2 separate regions of the Homo sapiens genome follow, and region 2 is linked to region 1. A link means that fine-mapping ties the variant in region 1 to the expression of a gene that starts in the linked region. Tissue or cell type: atrial appendage. Region 1 holds a variant in brackets; the other region holds the start of a gene. All regions are shown on one strand. Distances are from middle to middle.

Evidence for each region. PIP is the estimated chance that this variant, and not a neighbour inherited with it, causes the effect.
Region 2: it holds the start of POF1B, and the variant in region 1 is fine-mapped to the expression of POF1B in atrial appendage (GTEx, PIP above 0.99).

The regions. Positions count from the first base shown.
Region 1 is chrX:85,796,338-85,799,102 of GRCh38, forward strand. No RefSeq gene overlaps it. Among named protein-coding and RNA genes, the nearest start is that of MIR1321, 38 kb to the right of the region's middle. The variant A/T (reference allele first, on the strand shown) is at 1,485.
Region 2 is chrX:85,378,099-85,380,863 of GRCh38, forward strand. POF1B (POF1B actin binding protein) reads right to left here and starts at 1,567. Exons shown (of 17, transcript NM_024921.4): 1 at 1,541-1,567; 2 at 1,075-1,397. The coding sequence starts at 1,356.

The sequences.
Region 1 (2,765 bases):
ATTCTTTTTTATACTGGCTATTTCATCCTCAACTCCTGTATTGTTTTACTGTGATTCTTGTTTTCCTTGGATTTGGTTTTGTCATCCTCCTGAATCTTGATTATCTTCATTCCTATTCATATTCTTAATTCTATTTCTGCCATTCCAGCCAGTTCGGCCTGGTTAAGAACTCTCATTGGAGAACTGGTGCTGTTGTTCAAAGGACATATGACACTGTGGCCATTTAAGTTACTATAGTTCTTTCTCATCTCTGCATGTGGGTATTCCTTTAACTGCAGTGTAGATTGAGTACAGTCAATAGATTTATTTTCTAGATGTTTTCACTGGGGCAAGGCTTAGTGCTGGGTCTCTATTTGAAACTTACTTTTTGTCTCTAGTTTCAGAGGGGAGAATGTTAGTGAGGTATTTTTATTGTTAAAGCTTTGGGGTATGATTCAGTAGGTAGCACTTAAGCTTATTGGTTAGTTGGTAGATTCTTGCTTGGTTGTGTGGCTCCCCTTTGTTTCCTCAAAGTTACAGCTATGTTTTCTCTCAATGCTCTGAAAGTGTGTGGGTTTCTCTCCCTCTTAAGTACTGGCTGTAGATTGTGGCTTGGCACTCTGGAGCTGCCTACTGCAGCTCTGGGGAGATCTCAGTGTTGTTATTCCTTCTCCAGCTTGGTGGTGCAGAGAAAGGGACCTTAATATTGGTTGTGGCCAAGGACATTTTGCTTGTCTCCTGTGGGCTCCGCCCAAGACAGATGCAGGTCAGCAATTGCTCAGTGCAATCAACCCAGGATAGGTGACCTGTGGTTTGGGCCCAAGCCAGGGGTTCTCTATCTGGTGACAAGCAGTGTGAACTGTGTGGGACCTGTGGGAGATGGATTGGCCTTCTCTCCTTGGGTCAACTTCAGCTTTCTGGAGGTGTGGATAAAGCATTTAGGGTCTTTGCTTCTTCATTAGTCTGATGGTAGCAAGGGCAGTTCCTTCCACTGCAGAGGCAGTAACAGAGAGGCTTTCAGTTGCCCCTGGAAGCTCTGTCCAGGGGGTTGCTCTGTTGTTAGTGGCTCAATATCTCTGGTAGAAGGTGGCTGGAGACCCAGGCCTGGAGGACCTTCTCAGTGAGGAGATTTGGGAATGTGCACCCACATAACAGTCTGGTCACTTTTCCATAAGGCTGCTGTGGTATGCTAGGGGCCCATTTCAGCCCCTAGTTGCCTCGAATTTTCCAGCACCTGGAGGTATCACCAGTGAAGACTGTGGAACCGCAAAGATGGCAACCTGGCCCTGCCCCTCCCTCTGGGAGCTCCATTTCAGAGAGGTATAGATCTGTTGTCAGGTCAAACGCACCCGCAGTATGTGGCTGGATCCCACATTGGGAGGTATCCGTATCTTTGTGTGGTTTTGAGAGTTCCTCTTGCTATTGATCTCTAATTTTATTCCACTGTGGTCTAAGAAGACATTTGATATGATTTTGATTTTTTTGAATTTATTGGGACTTGCTTT[A/T]TGGCAAATTATATGGTCAATTTTAAAGAATGTTACATAAGCAGATGAGAAAAATGTATATTCTGCCTTTGTTGAGTGGTATGTTCCGTGTATGTCTATTAGCTCCATTCAGTCAAGAGCTCCACTTACGTCCAAAGTTTGTTAATTTTCTCCCTTAATGATCTGTCCATGCTGTCAGCAGAGTACTGAAGTTCCCTACTATTACTTTATGGCTGCTATCTACTTTCTTAGTTCTAGTAATATTTGTTTTATAAATATGAATGCTCTGGTGTTATATGCATATATATATATATATGATAGTTAAGCCACCTTTTGGAATTAAACATTTTATCATTATATAATGCCTTTCTTTTTTTTTTTACTGTTTTTGATTTAAAATCTGCTTTATCTGATATAAGAATAGTAACCTGTGTTCCCTTTTGTTTTTTATTTGATGAGATATCTTTTCGTGTTCTTTTACTTTGAGCTTCTGGGTGTCTTTACACATTAGGTGGGTTTCTCGTAGGCAGTAGATGGTCTTGTTTTTTCATCCAGTTTGCCAACCTATACTTTAACTGGAGCATTAGGCAGTTTATGTTCAAGGTTAACTTGTTCAAGGTTGCTTTGTATTCTCAATTGTGCTTGCTTTATAGGACCTATACACTTCATATTTATGTGTACTCTTATGGTAGCAAGTGTCATCCTTTTGTTTCCATCTTTAGAACTTCTTTGATTATTTCTTATAGGACTGGTATAGTGGTGACAAATTCTCTTAGCATTTGCTTATCTGGAAAGACTATTTCTCCTTTGTTTATCAAGCTTAGTTTGGTAGAATGTAAAATTCTTAGCTGGCTTATGTTTTGCTTTGGAAGACTAAAAATAGGCTCCCAGTCTTTTCTGGCTTGTAAGATTTCTGCTGATATATCTGCTGTTAGTCCAATAGGGTTTCCCTTATAGGTAATTTGGCCCATTTATTTAGCTGGCTTTAAGATTTTTTTCTTTAGTGTTGACCTTGGATAGTCTCATGAGTATATGCCTTGGTGATATTAATCTTGTATAGTGCCTCGTAGGTGTTCTCTGAATTTCTTTTATGTGGATGCAGATTTCTTTGGTCTCTCTAGCAAGGTTAGGAAAATTTTCCTGAATGATTCCCCCACATATGTGTTCCAGATTGATTACTTTTTTCTTCTCTTATTTCAGGAATGCCTATAAATCATAATCCCTATTTCTCAAAGGTTTTGTTCATTTTTAAAAAAATCTTTATTTTTGTCTGACTGGGTTAATTCAAAAGACTAGTCTTCA
Region 2 (2,765 bases), 420 kb before region 1:
TTATGACCTTTATATTTTTCTTCTCCTTGACCTCAGTATAAGTGGAGTTTTTCTCAACCAGTTGAGAAATGTTACTTTATATTCTACTCAAATTTGTGGGTTTTGGAAAAATAATATGTATTACTCCTGATTGGTAATAATAATGTAACATAGCATCATATCCCAATGACTGCTTTTTGAGATTTTTGTATCTTAAAAACATAATTTCAGTTTGGACAGAATTTTCCAGAAAGCTTAAAACATGCAAATTTAATGTAAAAGGAGTCAGAGGATAAAATACACATAAAGCTGTTAATTTTATACAGTCTTGCAGGGTTACCTTGTATTTATTGGGAAGGTTATTAACACAGGTATTGGTGCTAAGAATAACTCTTAAGAAACAAACGTATTTCATTTTATGGGATGTCTTAGAGTTCCATCTTTTGTAGCTTTCATGTAACAATTGCTTACATCTTGCCTTCCTCAATCCTATATCAACTCTTCCAGTACTCTTTCTACAAGTATTCCATAAATTATTCACCTAGGCTGTACGATAAAAAGTGTGTCATTCTTGGAAGATGAAACACATATGACAATTCAGACATCTGCACCTCTCACTTATCCTGGAGCAGCTATACTATTTGCTGAGCACAAATAATTGCTTATCACTCAGACATGCCACAGTACCTGTATCACCATATTTGATACCAAAAAAAACCTGTTTGCTTCTGATATGAAATTAATCAGTAGGAACTTGTTCTAATAAAAATCTACTGTACTCAAGTTGAGAACTGCTTTGCAGTAGGGGCAAAGGGATTCCTTGGATCAGATCTTTCAGTCAGATCAAACAGAAAATGAGCCTTCCTATACTATGGTTAGATTATGAAAATCAGTGAAACCCGGAAACAAACAACCACAGACACTAGTAAGTGAAATAACAGCCAAGAGATGAATTTGGGTGACTATCCAAGGCATATATAACTGCAATCCACCAAAAGATATCCTGTGGAATAGAGGCAAAGAAGCAGAAAGGAAGAGAAATCAGGTTGAAGATTGCCTTTCTCCACTAGTCTGGCATAGCTTTCTTTGTTGTACCTGAGAATGGTCGCTCCAAACCAAATTTTGGTAGGAGGAGGTGGTTTTGAGAGGGGAGAGCACTTCCCGTGAGTTGAAGGGGTCCAAGGCCTGCACCACCTTGTTCATGGGCCCACTGTAGGTCCTCACTCGCTCATACACTACATTTTTTTCTGGAGGCTGCTGGGCTTGGCTTGACTGATGGTAGCAGTGGTAATGCTGGGGCTGGCACTGCAGCACCTCTGGGAGCTGCTGGGTTCCACAGCTGCTGCTGCTCGTCTCACTCCAATAGCTCGAGCTCATCTTCTTCCAGTGGTCAGCAAGGGACCTCCCAGATGTTCTACCTAAGGAACAAACAGAGAAATATAATGGAAAAAAAAGACAGGCAAGCAGGCAGTCAGGCAGGCAGACAGACACACGACACACGTGTGGAAACCGCTTATCAAAACCTCTGCCAATAGTGGTGCCGGGAAGAGAAGAAAGCTACCTGAGCAGCAGCAAGAGCAGGTCTGGCAGCTACAGAGGAAGCAGCAAAATATTTGAGCTCAAATGGAAAATGGAGCCACCCTGTGACATTGCTCCAGGAAATGGTACTGACACGCCCTTAGGGGCGGATTCACTTAGCAGGTTTACATGCCAGGAGAGGCCCTGCCTTGCCACGGAGATAGCTACAAGGCTGCCCAGCAGGTAAAGGAGTCTGTGAAGAGCAGAAATGTAGAATGTCAGGGATGAAGCCAGAGTTTCCAAGCACATGGGCTTAAAAATTCACAAAGACATGAAAATGCAAAAAACTTGCTAGAGAAAAAAAGTCACACATGTTATATGAAAGTGTCTTTTTATGGTTCTTAAGTTTAGCAAAGGTAGTTACCAGCATAAGTATTATTATTCCAGATTCCCAGACTAAAATAATGAGTATTAGTCTAGGAATACACCAATTTTCACAGATAAATTTGCATTCTTTGCAAAACCCATCTGATAATTGCAGTTAAGGAAGATTACTAAGGGGTCTCTTTCTAGTGACTCTGTCTAATATATGGACTTGTTTATCTTACTCAAAGCCTCGTATTCTTTTCTATCATTTGTTGAAGGAAATTTGTCTAAATGATTGAATTGCTGTATAGAAAGGTGGATGGTCAAGAAAAACCTAAAGATTCCACAAATGCTTTGCATTTTGGCATTCACATTTGTTGTTTTTCATTTATGCAAGGGAATTTCTCCTGCCCTTATATGTGCCCTAGGAAACACTGAGTTTGATTGACTTTTTAATATCTAGTTATTAAGGGAGCTGCAAGTCCTGAAAGATGCCTTAACTGACATAATGAGATTTAAATGTGTTTACAACTTACATTTATTACTACTTGAAATTTTGATCATAATGCCTACTTACCCTCAGATTTTGCTATGCAATATACTTCAGCACCACTTAAATCCAGAATACTCTCATTCAAAGTGACTTTAGTAAAAAGTATCTTCCTAATGTGTATATGTGCAATAGGACCTAGTATACTACCACCATTCTAGAGAGGAAGAGAATGTTATCCAGGGGGCTAGCAGCATTTTTTTTCTGCCCAGTGAACAAAGTGTTATGATTTACTATTCACTCTGTGTCAGGTACTGTTCAAGGGGTTTTATGTGGATTATAATTATTTCATCATTGAAGTGACTTTATGAGGTTTATAGGTGAGAAACTGAGGCACAGACATGGAGAGTTT